7 linked regions of the Homo sapiens genome follow. The protein of the gene in region 6 purifies or fractionates together with the protein of the main gene of each other region. This does not show direct contact. Each region holds a gene or a part of one and is shown on either strand. Other genes may lie near its edges. The genes, in order: PCDHGA5, TMED5, PYGM, PCDHAC2, TNFRSF13B, TAF6L and MYH7.

Region 1 (4,038 bases), on a different chromosome or scaffold from region 6:
AGAATCAGCTAGTTATGTAAATAGTGGAACATTATTTGCTGTATTGGAGATTAATTTTTTTTATATAATTCATGCTTTCTCCATTTGTTTTCAAATTCTGTTTTGGGAAGTCTAGCTGATATCTGTAGACTTAAGTGAAACAAATACCTTAAAGGAAAGTGGTTAAATATAATCATTTTACCCAAATATTTTGTTATATTGGAACTGCAGTTCTATTAATAGAAAAGATGTTTTATTTATTCAAATTGTTAGATATATTGTTCTCTTTTGAGTGTCTGCCTAGACACCATTAGTGAATGTGTTTTGGAAAGGATAATGTATAGGACTGATATTTTAGTCTACCTGAAATTTGTTTAAGGAAATAATTTACAGTATTTACATAAATCAGTGGAAAGGTACAGAGAACTTCTGGGTCATAAATATCAGAAAAGAGGCCGGGTGCGGTGGCTGACGCCTGTAATCCCAGCACTTTGGGAGGCTGAGGTGGGCGGATCACGAGGTCAGGAGATCGAGACCATCCTGGCTAACACGGTGAAACCCTGTTCTACTAAAAATACAAAAAATTAGCCGGGCGTGGTGGCAGGCGCCTGTAGTCCCAGCTACTCGGAAGGCTGAGGCAGGAGAATGGGGTGAACCCGGGAGGAGGAGCTTGCAGTAAGCCGAGATCGCGCCACTGCACTCCAGCCTGGGAGACAGAACGAGACTCCGTCTCAAAATAAATAAATAAATAAATAAATAAATAAATAAATATCAGAAAAGTAGATAAAATTTATATTAATGATAACATGTAGCATTCTAAAGTCTGGAAAGTTTGTGTTAAGCCATGTAGTTATTGGATATGTGGGCTTGTTGAGAGAAGAAATCAGTGTAAAGGAACCTTAAGGTTGGGCTTCGTTCTGTGATGTAAAGCCTCCAGAGAGTTACATACTGCTGCACTCAATAAATGTAAATATGTCACACACCTGGCATCTTCTGTTATAGATAAACCCTTTACTTATTAGAATCAATACCTACTGCAATGTTAGCGTTTCTTTAAGTGTAGGTGCAATTCTTCTTTATTACTTGAGTTTAAGGTTGTATTTGAAAAAAAAAGAACTCAACTTAAAGATGGTTCAAAATTTTAAATTTCATATCTAACGTATGTGCTCATCTTAAATTAATAGATTTGTCTTAATGAAATACTGGCCTATGTGCCTCAAATTCCAGGAGGATGTGTTATGTAATGAAAGAACTACTATATTTCCCTTCTGCATCTGATTTGCTGAAGATGATTTTCAGATGTTTCTTATTAAAATATTCTTAATCCTTCAAATTTTGTACTTTTAAAACCTTGAGCATCAGCTTCAAATAATGACTAAATAAGGGGAAAAGGTAATAAAATATTACAAATGGGATAGTAAGCTACATTACTCAACCACATGAAAGGTTAATTGACACATTAAAGAACCTAAGACCACTTGATTTTTATTTTTTAAACACTGTTAAAGAGCATTCAAGTATATCTATATCTATATACATATACACACACATATATATACACACATATATATACACACATACACACACACAAACACACATACATACACACATGGACATTCTGACCAAAATGTAAAATGTACAAACTCACCGAATAGTGAATGCATCCAAAGAGTAACAAGAGAATCTATACAGTAGGTGTCGACATTATTCACTCCTATGTGAAAACTTGCTTTTCCATTTTTTTTAAAAGAAAATGTTATATGCTTCTTAGGGTAAGGTGTTTGGGAAAAAAGTAAAGGTTATAGATTTGGGTACATTTCTTCTGAGTTAAATGTTTTGTGCAATGGAAAAATATCTTTAAACCCTCTATAAACTACTAACAGACTATAAAATGCTTGATCCATACATTTTGAATGTATGTACTGTATATACCATATACTTTTAAATATCTGAATCTTTAGTTTTATATGTGTTCTGAAGAATAATTTTTCATACTAATTGAAGTGTTCATACAATGAACACTTGGCATTGTGTTGGAAGGCACTTGCTTTGGAATGTTTTGGAGCAAAGTCTTGAGTCAGTTATATTTTTGATGTTTGTATAAAGGTGACAATGAGTGTCTGTCTAGAATTCTGGTTACTGTGAGTAGTTTAAGATGCTATAATGCTTTTCCACTATAAGGTGAATTCGGTGTGGAACTCATTGCTTATTGCTGCACACTTGCCTAGTTTTAGAGTAACAATACATTATGTAGGCTAAAGATAATTTCTTTAGGAAGATTTTCTGGTTTGAAAATGGAATTAAAACTGTAAGACACCTGTCAGAAACATGGAAAATGGCATGTTATTGACCAGGGAAAAGTGTAAATAACAAAAAGTTAGGATTATCAGATGGTAAACTGGGGACCAAGGAAAAGTGGACAGGAAGATTACTTATATAATTAAATAATATAATTATAAGGACTTACAATTCACTCCCCAATCCTAATAACGCATCATTGTTAGGCTACTTGAGAAGAAACAGTACATTTCAGGACAATTGTGATGTAGTATGAAAAAACATCCTTTGTAAAAGTTTTTCATTTGGGCCAGGGTGGTTCATGACTATAATCCCAGCAATTTGGGACGCTGAGGTGGGAGGATTGCTTAAAGCCAGGTGTTCTAGCCCAGCCTGGGCAACATAGTGAAACCCCACCTCTATAGAAAAAAAAAGTTTTCAATCATACTTATTTAATTAAAAGTAGACACTTGGAAACAAAGGAAAAGAGACCCTCTTGCTTTTTACTATACTTCTATTTTATAAGGTCAATCATTTCCTCATTACCTTTAACTTCTTTTGGGGGGAGATAATAAAGATAAAAGAGAAGAAAGTGAAACATAGAATAAAACTAAAAGCTATGACATTATAACTTTTAGAAGTTAGAAGTAAAGGAAATAGAATGCAATAAGAATACACGTGAAGCTGATATTTCAAGCCTCTTTATACTACGTCTTCTGCCATCACCAAAAATAGCTTCCATTTGTATGATTTTCTATGTATTATTTTATTTGGCCCTCATTTCTACTAGAGTAAGCAGAGAAGATATTATTATGACCATTTTATGAAAATGGAAACTAAAAACGTGACGGGATTGAGCAAGATTATCTCTGCCCTTTGACAAGTAAAAGGTACTTGATTTGGATGGATAAAGCTCAAATTAAAAGAAATAACAGACTAAAGATATAGTAAGTATATTTAATGTTTTTTAAAAGTCCTTTTAAAATGGGAAGAAAGTATCACTATCAGTACACTGCCGATTTTTCTCCTAACTAGCTCCTTATTTGGAGCTGATTTAGTCACCATTACTGCAGTTCTGCAGCAGAGGCGCCGGGTGCCGCTCTTGGCTAGTGCTGTGCAAAATATTGGCTCCTCCCGCTGCAGCCAGCTCGGAAGAAAAGTGCACTCTCTATCAGGCTTCCTGCAGCGGAGACACCCATTAGAGAACCCAAGCACAAAGACAAAGCAAATAGTTGGTCCTGCTCGGAGAACTCTTGGGATTATTTAAAGATCTCCTCTCCTCGGATTTAGAAAGGCAAAGGCGCAGAGAGCGGGATGGGAAATAGCTCCGGATGGAGGGGCCCAGCAGGGCAGAGGCGAATGCTATTTCTCTTCCTGCTCTCTTTGTTAGACCAGGCTCTCTCCGAACCGATCCGCTACGCTATTCCCGAGGAGCTGGACAGGGGCTCGCTGGTAGGGAACCTCGCCAAGGACCTGGGGTTTGGCGTGGGGGATTTACCTACTAGGAACCTGCGGGTTATTGCAGAGAAGAAATTCTTTACCGTGAGCCCCGAAAATGGGAACTTACTTGTGAGCGACCGTATAGACCGAGAGGAGATTTGTGGCAAGAAGTCGACGTGTGTTCTGGAATTTGAAATGGTTGCTGAAAAGCCTTTAAACTTTTTTCATGTAACTGTGCTGATCCAGGATATTAACGACAACCCACCGACCTTTAGCCAAAATATCACTGAGCTGGAAATCAGCGAACTGGCTCTCACTGGAGCCACATTTGCCCTGGAATCT
Region 2 (4,038 bases), on a different chromosome or scaffold from region 6:
AAACATATAACAAAACTGACTTAAGAAAATGTTATAGTAAGATAATAGAATGGAACCAGGAAACATACCAGTGAGATATGAAAAGAGGGAAGTGAGGTGTCAGAAGAAGAATATATGGTCTTTTGCTGAACTCTGAACTCAAAGAGTTATAACAAGTATTTTATTTTTATATAGTTCCCTATGATCAGATCTTTTACTTTCAGGCCTTCTAATTACCTAAAACGAATGAGGTCTGAATAAAAAAAAAAAATTTACGTACACACAAAGATATACTGTCCTGTTTTAAGAAAGAAAACTATGGACAAAAATGGCATATAGCCAGCAGCTCAAGAAACTTTAAGACATATACCTGGAACAGTAGCTTTAAGTTAAAATAGAAAGCTTGTGCTGGCCAGAAGGCAGGTTTAAAATGCCACGATAGATTGAATGGAATACCAGGGGAATACTAATTTACTAACCAAAGCACAGAAAAAATTTAGCCTGGATCAAAAGAAAACGCTTAAACAAAAATAGAAAGGTTAATGGAAGATGTTTTTGTTTATCAGATGGCACACTATCATGAACTGTTTTAAATCATATGGAATTATCTAATATTGATATGTAGTATCAAATGTGCTAACTTTCCATGCCCTGCAGATAACCCACTGGTATTATTCAGCAATGAAACTCAACTAAAAGAGATTACTTACGTGTGAACTCCATCTGATTTTCTTTGTTCAAAAACTAAGGTTTTGCCTTCTGGAGAGGCAAGATGGAAATCAATATCTAATCCTGCTCCATCTAAAACCTGTAGAAAAGCATACATGAGAAAAACATATATTACAAATTCTGGAAATAAAAAATTATATACAGTAGATCATATGATGTAAAGATTATCTAAGCTAGAGAGGTAAGAAAGTCATCAGTGATGTCTGAGCTAGAAAAGAACCAAAAGATCATCTAGTTCAATTCCATTCATTTTTGGAACTTGTCCCTTCCTTACCCATTTCTCTCACCATCACCTAAATTTAGGCCTTATGGATATTACTGAAATAAATCTTCCTAAAATAGTGGTTTCATTCAGAATCCCTGTAGAATGGACGGAAACACAAAGAGCAGTTCAAATGCTGGGCGTTTTAGTTAAAACTTAGGCAATTGGCAGGGCGCGGTGGCTCACGCCTGTAATCCCAGCACTTTGGGAGGCCGAGGCAGGTGGATCATGAGGTCAGGAGTTCGAGACCAGCCTGACCAACATGGTGTAACCCTGTCTCTACTAAAAATAGAAAAATCCCAGCTACTCAGGAGGCTGAGGCGGGAGAATCGCTTGAACCCAGGAGGTGGACGTTGCAGTGAGCCGAGATTGTGCCACTGCACTCCAGCCTGGGCGACAGTGAGACTCGGTACCCCGCCCCCCCTGCCTCCCCTGCCCCCCCAAAAAAAGACTTAGGCAATTTCAGACATTGTATATAACTTTTTTGTTTCCTCTTCAATAAAAGAATAATAATTAACTGTTTCTTAGCCTGGAATTCAAGACCACCATGGTGTGGACTCCAACTGACTTCAACACATTCTTCTACTACTTCCCAGTATGAATTGTGTATTCGAAGCAGGCCGGTTCATTTACTAGCCAATGAATACAATCTATCCATTTGTAATTCCAAAATGTCCTTCTATGAAGATGATGATGATAATCATGGCAACTAACAATTATAGTTGATGCCATAAATTGTCTTAAATGCTTTATGTGGATTAATTTATTCCTTATAACAACTCTAAAAGGTAGGTCCTATTATTCTCATTTTAGTAAAAAAACAACAAAAACTGAGGCACAGAGAAATCATTTTTCCAAAGTGACACAGCATTAATTCATCTAGGCCACATTAAAAAAAATAAGTAAAAAATAAACCAAAGTGATACAGCAAATAAGTGACATGGTCAAAATTTGAACTCAGCAATCTGCCTCTAGAATAATTTTTAATAAGTATGCTGTGTTGCCTCTATTTCTGTTCCATTCTCCTGAATAGGTACTCATCCAATTGTATTCATTCTTTAAGAGCCAGTTTAACCCATTTATGCCTTGTGTTCCATTAGTGGAACACTAAGCATGTAGGAGTTATTTATATCCTACTGCTCAAGGTCATTGCCAAGGTCTCATTTTGCAATTCAAAAAATTGCAACCTCCTGCATAAATGGGTCAAGTCCTTTGAAATCTCCTCTGAATCCTCCTGTCCAGTTCTCTCACACTCTCTCTTGTATTACTACAGATTGCACACCTATCCTCTTTGGCACTTATGAGACGTTCTCTGGAATCTAAGCATCTTTTTGTAGGATTCACTTAGCATAAACTTGTAGGTACCTTTATGGACACCTATGTGGCATATCCAACATAGATGATAAGATGGATGAAAATTTTGTTCACTATTTTTATAACTCCAAGGGTACTGGTCCTAACAATGTTATTATCCATATTTTGATTTTTTGTCACAGATGCAAATATTTAATAAATGCATCTTTTTATCATCCTATACAAATTAAAGTGTCTCAGTGTTTTCCCTGTAGATCTGTCTGCAAACTTCTCTTCCTGTCTTCCTCTTTCCCTGCGTTTTCTCTTCTGTATTTATAGTGTTTGCTAAAATTTTAAAAAGAATCTATTTGGAACACTATATAGTACAGCCTTTTAACTGAAAAAAAAAAAAACCTAACTCAATGGCTACTCTTTTTCTTAACACTCCATTTTATTTTTCATGGTAGTTTTAATGTGATGATATAAAAAATTACCTACTCCTGTGCTTTTATTGTTCAACAGAACTGGTTTCAAATGGCTGGCTAAATGTACATAATTTTCTTCTTTAAATCCCAATGAAATGAAGAAGACATGTAACAATTAAAATCTATAGGCTGGGTGCGGTGGCTCATGCCTGTAATCCCAGCACTTTGGGAGGCCGAGGCGGGTGGTTCACTTGAGGTCAGGAGTTTGAGACCAGCCTGGCCAACATGGCAAAACCCCATCTCTACTAAAAATAAAAAAATGAGCCAGCCATGGTGGCACACACCTGTAATCCCAGCTACTTGGGAAGCCGAGGCAGGAGAACTGCTTGAACCCAGGAGGCGGAGGTTGCAGTGAGCAGAGATCATGCCACCGTACTTCAGCCTGGGCAAAAGAATGAGTGAGACTCCACGTCAAACAAAAACAAAAAACCCACAAAGAAGAAAAATTCCTGTTTCAAAAGATGAAAATCTTCAGACAGAAAGGATCTAATAAATGTGAAGCAGGATAAATGAAAAAAGACCATAAAATATGGAGTTTTCCAAAGGATTTAAAAAGTACAATCTTCTATCAAAGAGAAGTAGCAGAAGTAGTAGAGAACTGCAAAATACAAGAATTGGGATTAGCATCAGAATTCTTACATATAACATTAGATGGAAAAAAATAATGGAGCCATGTAGTCAATGTTCCCAAGTAAAAAGATATTTACTGACATGAAAGCAAAAATAAAGCCATTTGCCAGGTGTGGTAGCATGCACTGGTATTCCCAGCTACTTGGGAGACTGAGGTGGGAGGACCACTTGAGGCTAGGCGTTAAAGCCTGTAGTGTTCTATGAAAGTGCCTGTGAGTAGTCACTGCACTCCAGCCTGGGCAATACAGTGAAAACCCATCTCTAAAATAAAATTTTAAAATAAATAAATAAAGTTATTTTCAGATATCCAAGGACTCAAAACATTCTCAAAGAATTACTCAAGGATACCCTCCAAAAACAAAAAATATATATATTAAATCAGAAAACAAGCAATGTAACAAAGCTAAGAAAAGATTTCAGTAAAACAAAGTTAAAAAGCAGTTATTGGTAGTGGCTGTCAGGCTTAATGAAATTGTGAAAAATGATTTTTAAGACTATGGAAGGTTAATTAAAAAATCATAAAATATACTTTTTTTTTTTTTTTTGAGACACAGTCTCGCTTTGTTGCCCAGGCTGGAGTGTAGTGGCGCGATCTCAGCTCACTGTAACCTCTGGCTCTCAGGTTCAAATGATTCTCCCGCCTCAGTGTCCTGAGTAGCT
Region 3 (4,038 bases), 2.0 Mb from region 6:
CCCATGGCTTTCAGGGAGCAAGGATTTTTTTTTTTTTTTTTGAGGCAGAGTCTCACTCTGTTACCCAGGCTGGAGCGCAGTGGCGCGATCTCGGCTCACTGCAAGCTCCGCCTCCTGGATTCACACCATTCTCCTGCCTCAGCCTCCCGATCAGCTGGGACTACAGGCGCCTGCCAACACGCCCGGCTAATTTTTTGTATTTTTAGTAGAGATGGGGTTTCACCGTGTTAGCCAGGATGGTCTGGATCTCTTGACCTTGTGATCCGCCCGCCTTGGCCTCCCAAAGTGCTGGGATTACAGGTGTGAGCCACCGCACCCGGCGTAGAGCAAGGATTTTTTTACTTCCATTTCCCAAACAATATTATCTCTTAGGGTTGATATAATATTCTCTTCCTTTTCCTTCAGTTCTATATTACTTCTTTCTTTTCCAATTTCATTAACCTTATTTGCTGTAAGCGCCCTCTAAAGTTTCCCAGAATCCTGCTGGCCATGACCAAGACCTTGCTGGGCCTGGACCAGTCTTTCCAGACGTGCCGCTTGCTCCCAGCACCACTCTCCAGCAGCCACACCTGGGTGTCTTTTGCCCGTGAACCCTGACCCCCATACCCTCTTTGGTCAAGCTTATCCACATCCTCCACCCGCATGCCAAAGATGAAGAAGTTTTCCTCTCCCGCCTCTTCTGCCATCTCCACATTGGCCCCGTCCATGGTGCCAATGGTCAGAGCCCCGTTGAGCATGAACTTCATGTTGCCGGTGCCTGAGGCTTCAGTGCCCGCAGTGGAGATCTGCTCAGAGAGGTCTGCAGCTGGGATCACTGTGGGGTGGCAGCAGGGGGACAAGTCAACTCAGGGAAGACCCTCACACCAGCTGGGGACTCTCAGATTAGGCTGGCCCCAGGCATAGCTGGACTCAGAGTCGCCCCACCCCAAACTCCCAGTCTTCACCAGCCAAGCCTCCCTCTCACACCGCACCCCCACTGCCCTCTACCTCTTGTTGATTCTTGACCATCTAGGTCCAACCTGGATTTCCCCACCTCTGTTGCAGATTTGAAGGTAATTTCACCCTGTACTGCCTGAAATTCCACCATTAGAGGGCATCCTCATGGGGTTTTTGCTTTGTTTTGTTTCCTCTTGTTTTTTGAGACGGAGTTTTGCTTTTGTTGCCCAGGCTGAAGTGCAATGGCGTGATCTCGGCTCACTGCAACCTCCGCCTCCCAGGTTCAAGTGATTCTCCTGCTTCAGCCTCCCAAGTAGCTGGGATTATAGGCACCTGCCATCACGCCCAGCTAATTTTTGTATTTTTAGTAGAGACGGGGTTTCACCATGTTGGCCAGGCTGGTCTCGAACTCCTGACCTCAGGTGATCCACCCACCTTGGCCTCCCAAAGTGCTGGGATTACAGGCATGGGCCACTGCGCCTGGCCTCCTCATGGTTTAAGCATTGCCCTCTCCAGATTCTTCTTTCAAGTACAAGTATCCCAGGAAGAGACGACTGATACCTCTTCCTGAGACTGAACTAGTCAGAGCCTCCCTAGGGTCCCTGTTGGCAGCACCCACCTTTCTCGGCCAGTGAGACTCGGTAGTTCTCCAGGAAGATGACACGGAGGCGGTCACCCACTGCCGGGTCATGGTTGACCACATCCCCGATGGCTGTGACGAGTCTGATGATCATCTTGGCCATGTGGTACCCAGGTGCAGCCTGAGGGGACAAAGTCTGGGGTCAGCTCTACTGCCTGGCCCCCCACCCCCTATCCTGCAACTCAGCTGGGCTGACCTCAACCTGGATATATCAAAGGACGGGAGCCCAGGGCTGGAGCCTGGCTTCTCACCTTCCCTCCAATCATCACAGTCCGAGGCACAAAAAACTTATTGGGCTCCCTCTTGATGCCTGTGGAGAAACGAGAGGGATCCAGTGGGCCTACCTTTCCCTCTGGGTAGTAGCTCCTGACAGAGGCTGGGCTGGGACACCGTAGGCCTGACTCGAACAATCACTTGCTATGCTCTCTTAGCCTCAGTTTGCCCATCTGTGAAATGGGGATAATTCCATGTCCCAAGAGTAGTCCCAAGTCCAAAGGAGATGTTGGTTGGGCAATATGTACTATGCCGCAGGAACACGGGGGAGCACTGAGAGACAGGGTAGAGTGGCTGCCACTCACGGTTGTACAGGGTGATGACATGGAGGCAGTTGAGGAGCTGTCGTTTATATTCGTGAATCCGCTTCACCTGGATGTCGAAGAGTGAGTTGGGGTTGATGTGGACTTTGTATTCCCTCTCTAGGTAGGCAGCAAACTTCAACTTGTTTTCCTGGAGGCAGAGACGGGGAAGGGCTCACCAACAGGCCACAGCCTCAGGAAATCCTACAGTCCACACTCCAGTCAGCCCCAGGAGGATGGCTACCAGGAGGCTCACTGGCTACTTCTGTCCACTCCTGTACCAGGGCAGACATTGCTAATCAATGTCAGCACTGTTCATGTGAGGTCAGATGATGCCTTCCCACCACAGACTCCAGGCAACTTCCACCAACGGCCTGGGCTGGCAGGAGAGATGAGCTCTATTTGCCACGCCTGACCCAGACATCTGGCCCCTCCAGCGCTCTCCACACAGCACAGCTGTCCCACATTGCATCTCTCCCCACCTGCTTCACTTTGGCCACATCCCGAATGAAAGCTTCATCATCCACAAAGGAGAGCAGTTTGCGCAGCTGGTCCAGGTCAGAGATGAAGTCCTCCCCGATGCGCTATGGGAAGACGGCTCTCAGCCAAGCCCATCCCCATGTCCTCCCTCCTCCCAACACAGAAGGGGCCATTTCCAGGTCAGCCAAGCCCCCTTCACCCAGCAGGCTGCTCTGGGGGCCCTCCCAGCCCCTCCTCCTCCAGCCGCCCAGATGGGGCACGGGGCATCCATGCACCTTCCTCCCCTCCCGTCCTTGAGCTCTGATGGCTGACCCCACCTGACCCCAGCAGGCCTTCCTGGCTTCCTGGCCTTTTCCTAACGCCAGCATGACCTTGCGCCTTCCCTACCAGATATCTGCCCCCTTCCAGGCTCACTTCAGATGTGACCCATGGATGACTCCCTCTGCTGTGTTCACCTCCACAGCCAGGGCCTCCATTAGCACACAGAGCACCCTCATGCAATTAAGATGGTGTCCCTCCTCCAGGTGGATGCGAGGCTTGGGGAACACAGTGCAGGAGGGATTTCAGCCTTCAGCTGGGAGCCCTGATGCAGTGAACCACCTACACGACCATACCCAGCTGATCCCTGCAGGGACCCATGTTGACTCTACTGGCCCTACGGTGGCCTCTCACCTCAGCAATGACCTCTGCCAGCCCGGGGTTACACAGAACCAGCCAGCGCCGAGGGGTGATGCCGTTGGTCTTATTCTGGAACTTATGAGGCTCCAGCTCATAGAAGTCTTTGAAGCTGCAGGATGAGGTTGGACGAGGGTCACCACTCACCCCTGTACAATGAAGGCCTCTGCCCTGGGGCCCCTACCCTGGTGTCTTGCTGAAAGGGGCCTGGGGCAGGGAATGCAGACCTGGGGAAGGTTGGGGGTGCTGTGTGTAAGAGGAGGTCATCTCAGGACAGGGCGGCACTGGAAGGGGCTGCTGTGCTTGTAAGAATGACGCCACCTGTGAAAGGCGCCAGGGCCCAGAGACCAGAGAGTGGTCGGTGAAGGGCGGGGCTTCTGTGTGACAGAGGCGTGGAGTGGGTGGGGCCTAGAGAGGGGCGGGATCTGGAAAGCGGGGCTCACATGGTCTTCTTGAGGATCTCGGAGTGGATGCGCGCCACGCCGTTGACGGCGTGCGACCCCGCGATGCACAGGTGTGCCATGTTGATGCGCTTCACTGCGCCCTCCTCCACCAGCGACATGCGCCGCAGCCGGTCTACGTCCCCTGGGAATGCGGCCGCCACCCGCTGTGCCCAGAGAGCCCAGAGCTAGAACCAGACCCAGGAACCCCCATCCCCAGTCCCCAGCCCCACACCCCCAGAGCTCTGCCCAGTGCCCCCACTGCCCCAGAGTCTCAGGGCCCTGGCTGGAC
Region 4 (4,038 bases), on a different chromosome or scaffold from region 6:
AAATTGCAAAAATGAGACATCTGAACTTTGGAGAGATTAAATTACTTGTCTGATTGCTGAGTTCAGCTGACAGTCATGTTTAGGTCCCCTTAACACAAAAGTCTGTGTTTTATTTATATTTATTTATTTATTTATGAGATAGGGTCTTACTCTGTCATTTAGGCTGGTGTGCAGTGGCGCGATCTTGGCTCCCTGCAACCTCTGCCTCCCGGATTCAAGCAATTCTTCTTCCCCAGCCTCCCTAGTAGCTGGGATTACAGGCATCTGCCACCGTACCTGGCTAATTTTTGAATTTTTAGTAGAGATGGGGTTTCACCATGTTGGCCAGGCTGGTCTTGAACACCTGACCTCAGGCAATCCACCCTCCTCGGCCTCCCAAAGTGCTGGGATTACAGGCTTGAGCCACTGTGCCTTGCCAAAAGTCTGTGTTTTAAATAAATTTACATGAAATGACATATATTTTTCTTCTTTCTCTTTTTTACTTCTGAGTTTCCAGGATATTGATTTAAAACAATACAAAACTAAAAGTAGTAAAATGTACATGAGTTTCATCCAGAACTTGATTAAACTTGGAAAAATTCAAGTTGAAAAGTTGACTACTGATATATCTGACACAGTAAGACATATATTACTATCACAATTTCAATCACAGTTGAAATAACTGTGATTATTTAGTTCTTTAATACTTAGATGGTACCTCCCAGGACTATGCTTACTTTCTATTGGTGAAGAACTCTAATATGTCCTATTGCTTCAAAGGTTAGTCTTTTGGTAGAATAATGGTCACAAAACTCCATATGTGGAAAAAATCAATTAGGTAGTCCATATGGGTGATGTAGTATTACTGAAGAATAAGAATACACTTCAGTTCCTATTAAAATTATAAAAAAGATTTAATTTATCTTGTAATGGTATTATCTGTGATTTATGACATAGAATATTTGAGCTACAGAAGGATGAATCACCTCTTCTAAGATTTAAAGTAAAATAAGTTTAAAATACCCTATTTTATTAATAAACTCACACAACTACTCAATGAAATAATATGCTATCTTCGTACCATGGAAATCCATGTGGAAGACATCAACAAATTGCCCTCTGGGACATGAGACTGCATATAATATCTCCTTTTCCTTCCTAATAGGACTGTATTAAGAATATATCCACTGCAGATTTTGCATAGTGCTATTTTATGAACATTGATATAAACTGATAGGCAGAATTCCAAGATGGCCCCAAGATCCCTATATCCTGGTGTGCACACCCTGAATAGTCTCCAAGACTGTGATTGTGATGGATCTTATTCCCATGATTACATTATGCTATGTAGCACAGTTGGCTTTAAGAAAGGGAGATCATCTGGATGGGACTGACATAATCACATGAGCTCTTTAAATCTGGGTCTAGAGGTCAGAGACAGAAATCAGAGAGATCTGAAGCATAAGAGGGATTCCATGTGAGGGAAGATTCTCCAGTGCCAGCCATGAAGATGGAGCAGACCATGGGACAAGAGTCCTGAGTCCTCAGTTCTCTAGGAACTGAGAGTGACCCCAGGCCAATAGTAAGTAGGAAAACAGAGATCTCAGTCCCCAAACAACTGGATTCTGCCAACAATCTGAATGAGCTCGATAGTAGATTCTTCCTAAGAGCCTGCAAAGGACAACACAGCCCAGCTGTGTTCATTTCAGCCTTGAGAATACCTGAGCGGACAACTCAGCCACATGGTACAGGACTGTGAGATAACAAATAGGTGGTGTTTTAAACAACTTACTTGTGGTAATTTGTTACAAATCATCAGAAAAGGGATACATAGACTGTTCCGCATTAAGGCAAAAGGGAATATAACATTTAAAATAATCATTATGTTGCATATTGGTCTTCTAGTATATCAAAATGAGGGCTGGGCGCAGTGGCTCATACCTGTAATCCCAGCACTTTGGGAGGCCAAGGTGGAGACAGGAGTTCGAGAGCAGCTTGAACAACATGGTGAAACCCAAAAATACAAAATTAGCCAGGCATGGTGGCGCATGCCTGTAATCTCAGCTACTCGGGAGGTTGAGGCAGGAGAATCGCTTGAACCCTGGAGGCAGAGGTTGCAGTGAGCCAAGATCATGCCATTGCACTCCAGCCTGGGCAACAAGAGCAAAACTCCGTCTCAAAAAAACTAAAATAAAATAAAACACAAAGGTAATACATTTGAGAATTCTGGGTGGAATACTTTCCTCTGAATGTAGTCATTTAAAATGCTAATTTACAAACCAGGAAAGTAAAATAAACATAACTTTAGAACATACCTAATGGGTTCCAGTACAACAGAAAGTGCTAGGTCTGTTTAGTTCTGGATGCATAGCCTGCTAGCACAGCAGCTACTCTCTCACTCACAGTTGTACCTCCTTGGAGCCCAGAGTTCTGACCCTGGAAGGCCAGAAAGGAACTGATGGTGCTTATATGCCAAGGAACTAAGATTTCTCTTTACCTTTGCAATGTTGGATATTCCTTTGCATTTGTCAAGTTAAAATTCTTGAAAGAAAAACCCTTGTATAGTTTTCAGGTTAGCAGATTTAAAACACTGCAAAAGAATACTTTTAACCTTTGATTTTTGAAGTCATGGTTATAGATTATACTGCTCCAAATATTATCATATTAATAAGCTAAATTTATAGTTGTATTATCACATGCACAAAACATTGATCCAGGTGAAGTTCTGTAAAAGCCACATTTAAAGACACCTGTAAAATGCCATCATATTCAGCTAAACCTCTGGGTTTGGTGACAGGAATGTTTCCTCAAACATTTGCAAATTGACATTATTCTGACCTCTCATTGAGAGCAAAAATTGGTAGGCAACAAGCAAGTACCCAGAACTGACTTTGCTATTCTGTCAAGTAGACAGCATGCCAATAGGCAACCTATAATATGCCAGGCTGTGTCCCTGCAGAGTGTTCTGAGTTAGACCAGATGCCCATGTGATGGCTCACTCCTGGGTCAGAAGGAAACAGTAGGCCAATGACATTCAAGCTACAATAAATAGATTTCTTCTTCAGTCAGAATGTGTACAAGATACAGAAACAGAGAAGAGCTCAGCCATAATTCCATCTGGCTCAGCAGTCTGTAGAAAAATTGAGGAAAGAGGTAATTGAAATAAATTATTGTATCATCAGACCAAAGAAAATAAACTTTTTCTCAGAAGAAGAGTCCTGTGACCAATATGAAATTTGCAAACTAAAACAGCCCCAGTCATTATAAAGTGACCATCAGAGGATGAAAAACTGGAGTGGAAGCTCATAGATATGATTTCTTTGTCTATTCTGACCATTGTGCAATTTTTATAAATTCACTACTATGTCACTTTACAACGAGTGTAAACTCTGTTCCAGGATAGAGTCATCAGATAGAAAAATCAGTGCTGGGGGAAATAAAAGTAGGTGCCACTGAAAGAAGAATTAACTCTTTCAGGTCACTATACCTGGAATTAGGGTGAATATGCACACATAGTGGCAGAAATAACTGAAGGTTTGGTGACTACAAATTGCTTTAAAATAAGTGAAAGTGAATGCAAACTTAATTCATCTCTGCTACTCTTTCATAATTTCTACATGTTGTGCCAGCTGGGCCCACTGAGACACTGTTGGACAAATCTACTAGAGTACTCAAAGTGACTCATTAACAATCACAACACCACGACCACAAATGCACAGAATCTACCTTAAGATTTGGTTTCCTTTGCCGGGCATGGTGGCTCACATCTGTAATCCCAGCACTTTGGGAGGCCAAGGCGGGTGGATCACAAGGTCAAGAGATCGAGACCATCCTGGACAACATGATGAAACCCCATCTCTACTAAAAATACAAAAATTAGCCAGGCGTGGTGGCGCGTGCCTGTAATCTCAGCTACTCAGGAGGCTGAGGCAGAAGAATCACTTTAACTTGGGAGGCGGAGGTTGCAGTGAGCCGGGATTACGCCACTGCACTCCAGCCTGGCAACAGAGTGAGACTCCATCTCAAAAAAAAAAAAAAAAAAAAAATTTGGTTTCTTTT
Region 5 (4,752 bases), on a different chromosome or scaffold from region 6:
TGTCACTAGGGAAATGCAAATCCAAACCACAGTGAGATACCACCTCACACCCCTTGGGATGGCTAGAATGAGAAAGACAGTCAATGACAAATGTCGGTGAAGATGTGGAGAAATTGGAACCCTCATGCATGAAGTGAATTATAAAATAGTGCAGCTGCTTTGGAAAGCATTTTGCAGTTCCTTAAAATGTTAAACATAGAATTTATCATATGACCCAGCAATTCCACTTGTAGGTATCTATCTACTTAAGAGAAATGAAGACATGTTCACCCAAAACTTGAATCCAAAAGTTCATAGAAGCTTTCTTAATAATCACAGTGACAAAAAAAGTAGAAACAACCCAAATGTCCATCCACCGATGACTGGAAAAGCCACATGACATATCCATAAAGTGGAATGTTACTTGGCCACAAAACTGAAGCAAGTACTGATACCTGCTACAACATGGACGGCCCTTGAAAACATTATGCCAAGTGGAAGCAGCTAGTCACAATACATCACATATGATTCCATTTATGGAAAATGTCCAAAACAGGCAAATCTATAGAGACAGAGAGTAGATTAGCCTGGGGCTAGGGAGGAATGAAGACTGACAAAGTTTCTTTTTGGGGTCATCAAAATCTTCCAAAATTAGCTTATGGTGATGGTTGCACAACTCTGTAAATATACTAAAAACACAGACTTGTATGCTTTACACAGGTGAATTTCATGGCATGTAAGTTATATGTAAATAAAGCTGCTTATTCTAGGGGAGGTGGGAACTGGGCAGATGGAGGACAAGGAGGAAGAAAAGACTTTCTATTATATATCTTTCAATACTTTCTGGGTTTCAAACCATCTGACTATACTATCTATTCAAAGGCAAATCTAAAATCAAAGGATCAAACAAAATTAAAGGCAGACCCGATTCTCCCCACTTTTGGGTTGGGGAGCAAAGAGGGAGAAAGCCACCACCCGCCGCATATCACCGTGAAGGGTTGGTTGAGTGGAAGGTGGGCAGGACGTTCTATGTGACAAGGGCAGCCTTGGAGATGTTCCAAGACCCATTCATTGCCTGGACCAAAGCCACCAAAAGCCACTGGACCTGACAGAGAGACAGTGCCTGACTGACCAGACAGCAGATGCCAAGCTGACCAGAGGGCCTGTCCCCGCCCCCTCCTCTACCACCATGTGGACCTACATAAAATCCCAGAACCATCATCAAGTGCCAAAGGAGGGCAGGAAAACCCCATGACTGACACCAGCCAGGCAGAATAGAAGCTTGAGAGAGAAGCTTCGTTGATGGAAAGGGAAGAAAGGGAACACCTCTCTGACACTAGCTGTGTGGGCTGGGCTCAGACTCTGGGCCGCCACAAATTTGGATGCAGGATGGAGACTCTCTCCTGCACCCCGAGACCAGAGAGCAGCCAAGGAGGGTGATTCTCAGAGCCCTCTGCTTGTGCCTCCTCACGGGCTTGGCCGGTTAACAGGTGCTGCACCAAGAAAGAGCTCTGTGGTCGGATTAGTTTGAAAAACACTGGGTTAAAGAAAGTCAAGGCAGTTTTTTAACCGCAGGGCTTCTCAGAGCCTTTCCTCATGACTCCCCAAGAGGGGGTCTGGTAGTTTCATCAAAGCACTTTTGTGTGTTTGAGGGATGTCTGGTAGGAAAGACAGTCTTCTTCATTTTACACTGAGGGGAAGCGGCTCAGCCAAGGTCCCAGAGTGGGCCAGTGGACAACCGGCCAGGGCTGATTCGGCAGCACCAGACAGCTTCTGCCACTGCCAGGTCACAGTTCTAGCTGGGTCCTGACTCGTGGCCCCAGAGCACTGGGCAATTTCATCCTGTGTTAAGGCAGCCTCTGGTCACTGCCTTGTCCAAGTCTCTCAGAAACTTTACATATTTGAGCCCCTGGCTGTGTAGATTCTGGGGACTTGGTGGCTGGACACAAAAAAGGACTGAAGAACAAATTTGCTCCCTGCCTGAGGTGTGGGACAGAGCAGCAGGCAGAGGCTGTGAATCTAGGCTGTGCCCCGGGTCCATCTGGCCATGGGTTCTGTCTGCACTAAAGGACCTGGGGCCCTTTCATAAAACCTTAGAAACCCACCCTGATGAAAATGCTATACGGGCCGGGTGCCGTGGCTCATGCCTGTAATCCCAATACTTTGGGAGGCTGAGGCAGGTGGATCACCTGAGGTCAGGAGTTTGAGATCAGCCTGGCCAACGTGGCGAAAGCCTATCTCTACTAAAAATACAAAAAATTAGCCGGGCGTGGTGGTGGGCACCTATAATCTCAGCCACTCGGGAGGCTGAGGCAGGAGAATGGCTTGAACCCGGGAGGCGGAGGTTGCAGAAAGCCGAGATCATGCCATTGCACTCCAACCTGGGTGACAGAGCAAGACTCTGTCTCAAAAAACAAAAACAAAAACAAAACAACAAAACAAAAAAAAAGAAAGCTATAGGATAAATATAAATATAAATATATAACAGAAAAAATGGGTGGAAACTGTTATAGATTAAAACATAGCCAAAAGTCTAATGTGGGACAGGCTGATTTGAACAAGTCAACTGAGAAAGACATTGGTGAGACAGTTGGTACAGTTTGAACCCTGGCGGGCTATGTGATGATGTTCAGGAATTGTTGTTTCAGCAGGGGTGAAGGTATGATGCTTAGTTTTTTGTTTTGTTTTTAGGGTTTGTGTTCTTAAGGAATAAATCCTGTGGTCTCCACAACTCAAACAATCTGGTATTTGAGATTAGCATTAAAATGGTCCAGCGGGCATGTAAGGGGGAAAATGGGGGCTGTGCAGGGGCCATGGTGACAAAGGGAATTCCTGCCGGTGTGGCCAACCCTGCAACCTCAGTGGCTTCTGTCACGGAAGGCAAGCCCCACATCCCAGAGGCATCCAGACTCGGGGCTCTCCATGTGCAGGAGCTTGGGGAGGCTGGGACTGCCCCAGTGTGTGGATCTGCTGTGGGCTTTGCACCTGCTGGACCTTGCAACCCCCACGGCACTCAGGCCCAACCCTCCTCACACCTCCCACCTGCCCTCCTGCCCTCCTGCCCGGCTACTCACAGCGCTCCTCCTGGTCCACACGGCTCCGGCCACCTCGCCTGCTCCGGCCCAGGCCACTCATTACTCAGGATGCTTATTACTAGTCTTAGATTTGATTAGTGCTTGGGCTGCACTTCCTGGGTTTTCCCCTCAACCTGTTGGATGTAAATCAGCCACACCCACTCCCGCCCCCATGCCTGTGCATTGGGTCTCAGGAGCCCAGGTGGGTGGCTGCGGCCCAGGCTCCTGGCGTCCCATGGGGTACACACAGAGCAGTGGAAGGCCTGCCGGGCCTTGCGATGAGGTATTGACTATGGGATGGCCCAGGCTCTTCTAGATCTGGCCTTGGCCATCCCTTGGTCCTCATCTCCTGCCCGCCGGCACACACCCCAAGCCAGGCCAGCTCTCCACCCTCCCAGCATCACTCAGGCCTTTCCCTCTTCCTGGGTATACTTATTCTATTCATTGCCTGGTCGGCTCCTCCTGCTCTTCCTTCAAGGCTCCATTGAGGTGTCACCTCCTCCAGGAAGCCATCCCTGACTGTCCCAGCCTGTCAGGTGGTACTCATTCTCTGTATCTCCTTGACCCTCTCCAACACCTAGCAGAGCACTGGAGAGGCTGAACCCCAGGACCGGACAGCCTGCGTTTGAATCTTGACTCTGCTGCATACTAGCAGAAGGCCTTGGTGGCAATTTATGGAACTCTTCTGTGCCTCCATGTTCTCTGTGTAAAACAAGGATGAGGTCGGGCATGGTGGCTCACGCCTGTAATCCTAGCACTTTGGGAGGCCGAGGCAGGTGGATTGTCTGAGCTCAGGAGTTCGAGACCATCCTGGGCAACACGGTGAAACCCCATCTCTACTAAAAAAAAATACAAAAAATTAGCCGGGTGTGGTGGCGCGTGCCTGTAGTCCCATCTATTTGGGAGGCTGTGGCAGGAGAATGAACCTGGGAGTCAGAGGTTGTAGTGAGCCGAGATCGTGCCATTGCACTCCAGCCTGGGCAACAGAGATGCCATCTCAAAAAAAAAAAAAAAAAAAAGGATGAGAACATTGCCCGCCTCACAGGCGGTTATGAGCATGAAATGAGGGAGGGAGCACAGTTACATTCTTAGAGCAGGTTCTTGGCACACAGTAAGTCCTCAATAAAGGCCGTGGAGGAGGAACATTACAGCCCGTATTGCACTGCATGGCGACTGCACTCCTGTGTCTTCCCCATCGTCTGAAACCTCCCAGGGGATGGGAGGCCCAGCAACAGCCAAAGGCGGAGTGAGAGGAACGTAAAAGCCAAAGAAAGCCCATGGGCCCTTAGGAAGAAACTGAAGGACGAGGAGGACATGGAGAGGTGGAGAGGAAGGAGGGAGGCTGCAGGAAGCAGCTGGAGCAGGGTGATGGTGCACAGAGCAGGAGAGGAGATGCAGACGGTCAGCAAACACAGGAAAATGTCCAGTCTCCCAAAAATCAGAAAAACAACTGAACAATGAAAAACTAACTTTCAGCCATCAGGTTGCAAAGTTTTAAAGTTGGTAACATCAAGGGCAGGGGGGTGATCTACAGAAGCATGAACTCAGGGCCCACTGGAGGGAGGGAGCTGGCAGCAGCGTTCTGGAGAGTAACCAGCCAGGGTCAGTTAAATGCACAACACACACCTAACCCACCCCCCAGAAATTCTCCTCCTCCGTGAGCCTCCTCATGACAGCGAGAAACGGGAAACAATGTAAA
Region 6 (4,038 bases):
TTACACCATTCTCCTGCCTCAGCCTCCCGAGTAGCTGGGACTACAGGCGCCTGCCACCACACCCGGCTAATTTTTTCTATTTTTTAGTAGAGACGGGGTTTCACCGTGTTAGCCAGGATGGTCGCGATCTCCTGACCTCGTGATCTGCCCACCTCAGCCTCCCAAAGTGCTGGGATTACAGGCGTGAGCCACCGCGCCCGGCCATCCAACATTTTTAACTGAGAAAGGCAATCTATAAAACCAGATGCTTAATATAATACCACTTAGGTTTTTATGAGAGTAATCATAGTTGATACAGAGAAAAAAAAGTAGGTGGAGGAATAGACTTTTCAGTTTCTTTTTCTTTTTTTTTTTTCTTTGAGATGGAGTCTCGCCCTGTCGCCCAGGCTGGAGTGCAGTGGCTCAATCTCAGCTCACTGCAACCTCTGCCTCCTGGGTTCAAGCAATTCTTCTGCCTCAGCCTCCCAAGTAGCTGGGATTACAGGCGCCCACCACCACGCCCAGCTAATTTTTGTATTTTTAGTAGAGACAGGGTTTTGCCATGTTGACCAGGCTAGTCTCGAACTCCCGGCCTCAAGCAATCCACCCGCCTCGGCCTCCCAAAGTGCTGAGATTACAGGCGTTAGCCACCGTGCCCGGCCCTTTTTTTTTTTTTTTTGAGATGGAGTCTCACTCTATTGCCCAGGCTGGAGTGCGGTGGCGCGATCTCGGCTCATTGCAACCTCTGCCTCTTGGGTTCAAGCGATTCTCCTGCATCAGCCTCGCAAGTAGCTAGGATTACAGACGCATGCCACCAAGCCCGGCTAATTTTCTGGTATTTTTAGTAGATATCCAACGGGAAATCACCATGTTGGCCAGGCTGGTCTCGAACTCCCGGCCTCACATGATCCACCCACCTCGGCCTCCCAAACTGCTGGGATTACAGGCGTGAACCACCGCACCCAGCCACTTTCTTTTTCTATGTTTTTATATTATATGTACTTCTACAGTAAACATGTACTAGTATTACTTTTTCGTTTTTCTTTGAGACGGAGTTTCGTTCTATCAGCCAGGCTGGAGTGCAGCAGCGTGATCTTTTTTTTTGAGATGAAGTTTTGTTCTTGTTGCCCAGGCTGGAGTGCAATGGCACAATCTCAGCTCACAGCAACCTCTGCCTCCCAGGTTCAAGCGATTCTCCTGCGTCAGCCTCCTGAGTAGCTGGGATTACAGGCGTCCACCACCACACGTGACTAATTTTTGTATTTTTAGTAGAGACGGGGTTTCACCATGTTAGCCAGGCTGGTCTTGAACTCCTGACCTCAGGTGATCCACCTGAGTGGTGTGATCTTGACTCACAGCAACCTCTGCCTCCTGGGTTCAAGCAATTCTCCTGCCTCAGCCTCCCGAGTAGCTGGGATTACAGGCACCCACCACAACAGCCAGTTAATTTTGTATTTTTAGTGAAGATGGGGTTTCACCATGTTGGACAGTCTGGTCTCGAACTCCTGACTTCAAGTGATCCGCCCACCTCTGCCTCCCAAAGTGCTGGGAGGCCAAGGAAGGATTGCTTGAGGGCAGGAGTTTCACCAGCCTGGGCAATACAGTGAGACCCTGTCTCTAAAAAAAAAAAAAAAAAAAATATATATATATATATATATATATAGGCTCACGCCTGTAATCCCACCACTTTGGGAGGCAGAGGCGGGTGGATCACCTGAGGTCAGGAGTTTGAGACCAGCCTGGCCAACACGGTGAAACCTCATCTCTACTAAAAATGCAAAAATTAGCCAGGCATGGTGGTATGCCCCTGTAATCCCAGCTACTTGGGAAGCTGAGGTGGGAGAATTGCTTGAACCCAAGAGGTAGAGGCTGCAGTGAGCCAACATCACACCACTGCACTCCGGCCTAGGTGACAGAGCAAGACCCCATCTTAAAAAAAATGTTTTTTTAATTAAAATAATAAATAAAAATTTAAATGTTCATAGAATTAGGCCGGGCACAGTGGCTCACACCTGTCATCCCAACACTTTGGGAGGCCAAGGCGGGTGGATCACCTGAGGTCGGGAGTTCGAGACCAGTCTGACCAACATGCTGAAACCCCCGTCTCTATTAAAAATATAAGGCTGGGCACGGTGGCTCACACTTGTAATCCCAGCACTTTAGGAGGCTGAGGCAGGTGGATCACAAGGTCAGGAGATCAAGACCATCCTGGCTAACACGGTGAAACCCCGTCTCTACTAAAAAATACAAAAAATTAGCCGGGTATGTTGGCGGGCACCTGTAGTCCCAGCTACTCGGGAGGCTAAGGCAGGAGAATGGCATGAACCCAGGAGACGGAGCTTGCAGTGAGCCGAGATCGCGCCACTGCACTCCAGCCTGGGTGACAATGCAAGACTCCGTTTCAAAAACAAAACAAAACAAAACAAAATTAGCCGGGCATGCTGGCACACGCCTGTAATCCCAGCTATTCAGGAGGCTGAGGCAGGAGAATCACTTGAACCTGGGAGGCAGAGGGTGCGGTGAGCTGAGATCATGCCATTGCACTCCAGCCTGGGCAACAAGAGCGAAACTCTGTCTCAAAAAAAAAAAAAAAAAACAGGTCTAGAATTTACAATTTCAACTTTGTGCCCCAACTTGGGCCCACTCGCTCACCTTCATCAGTTGCGGATCATCCCCTAGCACAGCACGAGTCACCTGGTGATAGTACTTGAGAAGGTCATCTGTCAGTGAAGACACAGCACTGGGCACTGCCAGAGGACAGGCAGGAAGCAGGGACAGGTGGAGAGCTGGCCCTCTCCTGGCCTCTCCAGCCTCCTCCCCCTCAACCACCATCCCCACACACATCCACAAGAAGCCTTTCTGACAGGACAACCAGGGCAAGAGACTGCTCTTAGAGCCTGCTCAGCCCTGACCATCTAGGCTCTGCACACCTCTGTGCTCTGTCCTGTCTTCCACCCACCCTCTGCCAGACGGACTCCTGAGAGCTTCAGGCTCTGTGAAGCTCTGCTCAGCATACCCTGGGGGTGAAACACCGCCCCAGCATGCTGCCCAGACTTCTGTCTTAGCATCCAACATGCTGCATTATGACTAGTTACAGGTCTGGGCCCCCATCTCCAACTCTGAGCCCTCCATGCAGAGCCCAGCGCCCACTCAGACCATGGCACAAGGCAGGCATGGGTAAACACATGTTAGACGCAGACTCGGGGGCACATAGGCACCACCCTCAGAACCTAAGGGAGAAAATTCATCCAAAGAGCCTGTTTCCTACATCACCCCTTACCCGATCCTTGAGGTGCCAGGTTCCCTTTGCCATCCAGGTAGGAGACATGAACTAGAAGCAGTGCAGAGAGATGTGTCAGCCTGGCGTTTTGCCCCTTAGAGTACCGCCTACCCCTCCAAGTTCTGCCTCTTCCACCAGCCAGCCCATCACCACTTCTCTTCACGGCCCAACTCCCATCCCCAACCCATGCAGGACCCCGGCAGCCACCTCTGACAGCTGTCTCAGCACAGCCTTTGGGGATGTTGGTAGCCAGGGCCAGCTCCACCAGGTTCACCTCTCGATCCTCAGGAAAGTAGAGTTCACCCTCCCTGGCGGGGCGCATGGGCAGTGCCTCCTGTGATCCGTAACCACACACAGCCTGAGGAAAAAGGGAATTGGAGAGCAGCCTGAATCCAGGGAGGGAGCAGGCGTCAGGATCCAGGATGAGGCTCCACTGACCAGAGCAGAGAGCCCACGTTTGAAGGAAGTCCAGAAGTCCCAAGAAAAGTGGTGGAAGCCTGGGACTCAGAGCCACCACTGGGGACTTGCCTGGAGCATCCGGGGCTCCCTGGGTCAAGGGAAAGAACATGGTCGCTCCTCCCATAACTGGAAGGGTCCTGAGCCCCACACCAAGCACTGGTCCTCCTTATTCACACTCACTCAACTTTGAAAACTCACTAATGTCTTCTAAACATAGCCTTCCTCTCTCAACTCACCGCTCCAGAAAAACCACACCATGAGGCCCTAACACCCACACTGTTGCTCAGGCTCCTCCCTTAGCCTGAATGCCTTCTTTTCCT
Region 7 (4,819 bases), on a different chromosome or scaffold from region 6:
CAAGTCCCCAGCCAAGGAAGGACGCTGGCCTGTGGTGAAGACACTGGCTTTGAAATGGCTCAACTACGTCCCAAGCACCCTTTGTGCATCTTAATTGCCCTGGGAAATCAGGGAGGGGTGGCAGTTTGGAGCTTGGAAAGCTGGAAGGTGGGGACGAAAGGAGTTTTTGCCCCTCATCGCCAATCCTTGAGGTTCCTACAGGGAACCTCAGACAACAGCTGTCTTAGGGGTTTCCTTCCAGCTCCAAGCAGCTGTATTATCTATAGCTTTGAGAGGGTCTGTCTCTGTCAATGGGGCTGATTCCTCAGCACCTGGCAGGGCCTGGGGGGGACTGCCAGAGTCTGTTCTGCCGGGCATGTTAGTAGCACAGACTACTGGGATAACCTCAGCAACTGTATACCTTAGCACTGCAGAGCTGCGGTGTTGTCAGACACAGCCCTTGCAGTTCGTGGTCTACCCCCACTTGCCTGCACCCCCCTTATAGCTGCTCAATGTCCTCAGACTGTACCTTAGTGCCTTGGTTACCAAGCAACCCCCACAGAGGCCTCCTCCTGGATTTTCCCTTCCCTGCTATGCCCACCCCACCTTCAAAATGTACCTGCTGCACCCATCCCCCAGGCCTGCCTCACTCCTTCCAAGCTGACAGCTAATCAGATGGACTAATCCGCATGCGCGGAAGAGCTGTGCTTGGGAAGAAGGGGGAGATTTCACACCAAATCGTGCAGTGGTTGCCTAGACACGGAGCCAGTCAAGCTTGCATGCCCCGTTGCTAGAAGAGCATGGCATCGGTTGTGTTCTGTGCTCGTAGGCTGGGCCCCAGCTCCCTTTCCTCCCCTCCTTTGTGGCTGTTCCTCAGGCCTGCAGAGGGGAAGATTTTTCCTGTCCTGTTACTCTGCCTCACTTGCCAGAACACTAGTCGCCTCCAGCTCTGGATAAAGCTGAGGCTGGGTGGGCCAGACAACAGCTGTCTTAGGGGTCTCCTTCCAGCTCCAAGTAGTTGTATTATCTATAGCTCTGAGAGGGTCTGTCTCTGGGCTCAGGCCTTTAGTACCTGTGGGGCAGAGCCAGGAACGTGAGTCAGGCAAACCGCTCCAAACTAGGACCAATGCAGCTGGGTCCTGCTCTCTGCGCATAGGGGGTCCCCACATCTTTGGAATCCCAGCCCACCTTTCCAGGCTACCCTCCACAGGCCGGGCTCCACTCCCATCTGCTGAGGTTTCCCACCTTGAATCCTGCTGCCCCGATTAGCTGTATAACCTTAAAGAATGCACTGTCCCTCTCCATTAAATGAAGTGCTTGGATGGATTGCTAAAGGCCTGTCTGGCTCGGAGGCTTGGTGACCTCAACACATTGCCTGCTGGTCCAAGGAAATCAGTGCCTGAGCCAGAGTCCCCATCTCTAAGCTCCATGGTTATTGTTCTTGCCACCTGGCTAGGAAATGTCCTTCCAGCTGCCCCAGTCTAGCTGCCTCACCCTGGGGCCATGCCCCCAACTCTGTCCTACCCTTCTCTGCTGCTGACACTCAGCCCCTTCCCAGCTTCCAGTTGGATACAGGACCTGGGCCAGGAGAGCAGGGAGGACACTGTGGAAATGCGGCCAGGCCATCAGGGGCCTCGCAGCAGGGGACTGGAGGGGGAGCAGTGTCCAGGGCCAGAAGTGCCCTGCGGGAGAGCCAGGACATTGGCTGCCTGTGGTCTTGGTGGTCGTGGTCAGTTCCCTCTCCTGCCAGCTGTGGAATGTGAGGCCTGGCCTGGGAGATATTTTTGCTGCACTTTGAGCCACCCCGCCCCCTGGAACTCAGACCCTGCACAGTCCATGCCATAACAATGACGACCACTTCCAATTGTTTCCTAGCTGGAGAGGCGGGGAGGGGAGCACTGTTTGGGAAGGGGGGGAGCCTGGGGGAAATGCTTCTAGTGACAACAGCCCTTTCTAAATCCGGCTAGGGACTGGGTGCCGTTGGGGGTGGGGGTGCCCTGCTGCCCCATATATACAGCCCCTGAGACCAGGTCTGGCTCCACAGCTCTGTCCTGCTCTGTGTCTTTCCCTGCTGCTCTCAGGTAGGAGCGGGAGCTGGAGGCTTTACTCTGGGATAAGGGGGCTCCAGGCTTAGGAAGGGATTCCTCTTGGAATAGCAAGCTTCATGCAGGACTTCATGCAGAGTACCAGGTCCAGTCACTGGGCACACATGTGCAGGTCTAAACATGGGCGTATGTGCCACAGGAGTTCCTAGGGGAAGATATCTGCATCTGAGCATATGGGACCAATATGCATTACAGGGTGTGTGTGTGTGTGTGTGTGTGTGTGTGTGTGTGGACAAGCCTGCATAGTCTGAATGTGAGAAAGGGTATGTACCTCACTGACTGATACAGAAATATCAAGTGGGAGATGTGGGTGTATGATCACGTCTGTGAACGAGGAGGTTCCTTTGCAGGGAGGGAGAAAGAATGGTGGAGAAGGATTCTAGGAAGTGTGTATGCCTTCATGTGATTCTGTGAGGCCTGGAATGTGTAGCTACCCCTGTCCATGCATGCAGAGGTTCTTGTCTATGCCTCCACGAGTCATGACTGTTATAGTATCTGTACCCTCTGCAGAAGGAACTCACAGGCACGGGGGTGTAGGATGTTCCAGGTCTTTGTGTACTGAAGAACACGCAGTGATGTGATCTACTTACGTGGCACACATCCTGAAATGTGCACATTTGCTGTTGAGGCATATATGGCACCCTGGGGTTGGGGTGCGGATTGAGGTATGGGAAGGAAGCCTGTCTTCATGTGAGAGGCATGCCCAAGCAGCAGGCATGAGTGTTCATCAGAGGGCTTGTGGAGGGTGTTTGGCTATGTGATGGGTGTGTCTGTGAGAGGAAGCCCACAGTGTCTTCTCTCTGAGAATGTCCACAAAGTCTGACAACAAAATGGGGACAGGATGGAAAAGAAGTCTCTTTAGAGTCATCAGACTTGCATTCAAGTCTTGGCTCTCCCACTTGTTGTCATGGGCTCTTGGCCAAGCAAGCCATTTAACCTCGATTTCCTCATCTGTCAAATGGGGTGAAGACTGAGTAGGAGAAAGTGCATTGAAGTGCTTTTAGACTGGAAAGTGCCGAACAAATGTGACCATTAGTTGTCTCTCAGATGGCTCAAAGAAAGGTACCACTAGATGGGTACAGGCAGGGGTGGGACCATCTCGCAGGAGTGAAGAGGATTAGGGTTCAGGTTGAGTTGACACCAGGAAGCTGTTAGAACTAGTTCTTGAGGAAAAAGGGAATAGGGTTTGAAAAACAAGAAGGATGGGACCAGAGAAGCTGACCACCCTTTCCACCTTGTTTTGGAAGAGGGTGGATGCTGAAGAACAGAGCCAGGGAGAAGCAGGAAGGTGGGACTGGTCAGGTTGGGCACAGCCTGCCCTGACACAGCCTCTTCCCTCTCTCCAGGTCCCCTGCAGGCCTTGGCCCCTTTCCTCATCTGTAGACACACTTGAGTAGCCCAGGTAAGAAAAGCTGAAGCTAGAGTGTTGAAAATCTAGTAAGACTGGGCATTAGAGCCCCAAAGCCAGCCTATGGAACTCTAGTTTCTGCCATGTGCTGGAGAGAATATCTTGGCTATCAAGAGCTACTTACCTGTGACCAGGGGGTCCAGGGATAGATGAGGGTCAGAGATGGAAATAGTTAGATTTCTGCTCCTACAGGGAGCTCAGAATGCTCTTCCTTCCCCTAGGAGAGCCCCAGCTTGAACAATAGTTAGTTGTTCCTTTTACCCTGGCAGGTTTGCTAGGCTGCTCCTCTGGTTAAGGGGTAACCTCAAAGAGGAAGGGACTCACTGGTAACTCCTCTTGACTCTTGAGCATGGTGCTAGGTTTTGGGGCTCCCACTGAAGGGGAGAGCCCAGGGAGGGAAGGGAAGAATGGGCAGATGGGAGGGCAGCCAGCTTCTGCTCACTCCAGGCACAGCCATGGGAGATTCGGAGATGGCAGTCTTTGGGGCTGCCGCCCCCTACCTGCGCAAGTCAGAGAAGGAGCGGCTAGAAGCGCAGACCAGGCCTTTTGACCTCAAGAAGGATGTCTTCGTGCCTGATGACAAACAGGAGTTTGTCAAGGCCAAGATCGTGTCTCGAGAGGGTGGCAAAGTCACTGCCGAGACCGAGTATGGCAAGGTGGGTGTCAGGCTGATGTGAGAGTCCACCCTGGCCACCTGTACACCTGGGTGGACAGAGAGGGGTACACCCATGCCCCATGCCCATGCAGACCTGAGGATGGTCCCATTCTCCTTCCCTTTGGGGAAGAATCCAGACCCTCCAAAGAGCCCTCTCCTTCCCAATATCCCTTCTGTCTTCCCTGTGAGATCCTGGTTCCTTCTCTCTTGAGCACTATTGCCCTGTCACTCACCAACTCCTAACCCTCTTGAGGAAGGAGGGAAAGCCCAGGCTGACAGGAGGGCTTGGGTGGGGGCTCTTGCAGACAGTGACCGTGAAGGAGGACCAGGTGATGCAGCAGAACCCACCCAAGTTCGACAAAATCGAGGACATGGCCATGCTGACCTTCCTGCATGAGCCCGCGGTGCTCTACAACCTCAAGGATCGCTACGGCTCCTGGATGATCTACGTGAGTGCTGCACCTGGCCCTACGTTGGGATCTCTGTTCTTGCTCCATCCATGTCCACCCCAGGAGCCAAGAGTGTCTTCTGTTTGTGTCTAGGCAGGGTTACACTCTAACCTCGTCCCAACATCCTTGGTTCAATTCCAACACTCTGGGGACTGGCATTACTCAGATTGAGTGCATGCAGAGGTTTTCCTTTCTCTTCTTTCTCTCCTGGGATCTTTCTCTA

Evidence for each region.
Region 1: the proteins of TAF6L (region 6) and PCDHGA5 purify together in Homo sapiens (co-immunoprecipitation; one large-scale study listed by IntAct). This does not show direct contact.
Region 2: the proteins of TAF6L (region 6) and TMED5 purify together in Homo sapiens (co-immunoprecipitation; one large-scale study listed by IntAct). This does not show direct contact.
Region 3: the proteins of TAF6L (region 6) and PYGM purify together in Homo sapiens (affinity purification with mass spectrometry; one large-scale study listed by BioGRID and IntAct). This does not show direct contact.
Region 4: the proteins of TAF6L (region 6) and PCDHAC2 purify together in Homo sapiens (co-immunoprecipitation; one large-scale study listed by IntAct). This does not show direct contact.
Region 5: the proteins of TAF6L (region 6) and TNFRSF13B purify together in Homo sapiens (co-immunoprecipitation; one large-scale study listed by IntAct). This does not show direct contact.
Region 7: the proteins of TAF6L (region 6) and MYH7 purify together in Homo sapiens (affinity purification with mass spectrometry; one large-scale study listed by BioGRID and IntAct). This does not show direct contact.

Annotation. Positions count from the first base shown.
Region 1 is NC_000005.10:141,366,825-141,370,862, forward strand, and holds part of PCDHGA5 (protocadherin gamma-A5 isoform 1 precursor), read left to right. Parts: exon of another isoform or gene 1-959; intron 960-3,417; exon of another isoform or gene 3,418-3,570; coding exon of another isoform or gene 3,571-4,038. Other genes in the region: PCDHGB3 (protocadherin gamma-B3 isoform 1 precursor), read left to right, coding at 3,571-4,038. UniProt on the Homo sapiens protein: Potential calcium-dependent cell-adhesion protein. May be involved in the establishment and maintenance of specific neuronal connections in the brain.
Region 2 is NC_000001.11:93,159,440-93,163,477, forward strand, and holds part of TMED5 (transmembrane emp24 domain-containing protein 5 isoform 1 precursor), read right to left. Parts: intron 788-4,038; coding exon 690-787; intron 1-689. UniProt on the Homo sapiens protein: Potential role in vesicular protein trafficking, mainly in the early secretory pathway. Required for the maintenance of the Golgi apparatus; involved in protein exchange between Golgi stacks during assembly.
Region 3 is NC_000011.10:64,749,770-64,753,807, forward strand, and holds part of PYGM (glycogen phosphorylase, muscle form), read right to left. Parts: intron 3,914-4,038; coding exon 3,750-3,913; intron 3,419-3,749; coding exon 3,304-3,418; intron 2,736-3,303; coding exon 2,634-2,735; intron 2,303-2,633; coding exon 2,155-2,302; intron 1,887-2,154; coding exon 1,828-1,886; intron 1,698-1,827; coding exon 1,556-1,697; intron 815-1,555; coding exon 607-814; intron 1-606. UniProt on the Homo sapiens protein: Allosteric enzyme that catalyzes the rate-limiting step in glycogen catabolism, the phosphorolytic cleavage of glycogen to produce glucose-1-phosphate, and plays a central role in maintaining cellular and organismal glucose homeostasis.
Region 4 is NC_000005.10:140,972,648-140,976,685, reverse strand, and holds part of PCDHAC2 (protocadherin alpha-C2 isoform 1 precursor), read right to left. Parts: intron 1-4,038. UniProt on the Homo sapiens protein: Potential calcium-dependent cell-adhesion protein. May be involved in the establishment and maintenance of specific neuronal connections in the brain.
Region 5 is NC_000017.11:16,968,962-16,973,713, forward strand, and holds the start of TNFRSF13B (tumor necrosis factor receptor superfamily member 13B), read right to left. Parts: upstream 3,158-4,752; 5' UTR 3,115-3,157; coding exon 3,054-3,114; intron 1-3,053. UniProt on the Homo sapiens protein: Receptor for TNFSF13/APRIL and TNFSF13B/TALL1/BAFF/BLYS that binds both ligands with similar high affinity. Mediates calcineurin-dependent activation of NF-AT, as well as activation of NF-kappa-B and AP-1.
Region 6 is NC_000011.10:62,777,557-62,781,594, reverse strand, and holds part of TAF6L (TAF6-like RNA polymerase II p300/CBP-associated factor-associated factor 65 kDa subunit 6L), read right to left. Parts: intron 3,618-4,038; coding exon 3,467-3,617; intron 3,311-3,466; coding exon 3,260-3,310; intron 2,727-3,259; coding exon 2,632-2,726; intron 1-2,631. UniProt on the Homo sapiens protein: Functions as a component of the PCAF complex. The PCAF complex is capable of efficiently acetylating histones in a nucleosomal context. The PCAF complex could be considered as the human version of the yeast SAGA complex.
Region 7 is NC_000014.9:23,432,861-23,437,679, reverse strand, and holds the start of MYH7 (myosin-7), read left to right. Parts: upstream 1-2,019; 5' UTR 2,020-2,060; intron 2,061-3,430; 5' UTR 3,431-3,486; intron 3,487-3,939; 5' UTR 3,940-3,947; coding exon 3,948-4,148; intron 4,149-4,452; coding exon 4,453-4,596; intron 4,597-4,819. UniProt on the Homo sapiens protein: Myosins are actin-based motor molecules with ATPase activity essential for muscle contraction. Forms regular bipolar thick filaments that, together with actin thin filaments, constitute the fundamental contractile unit of skeletal and cardiac muscle.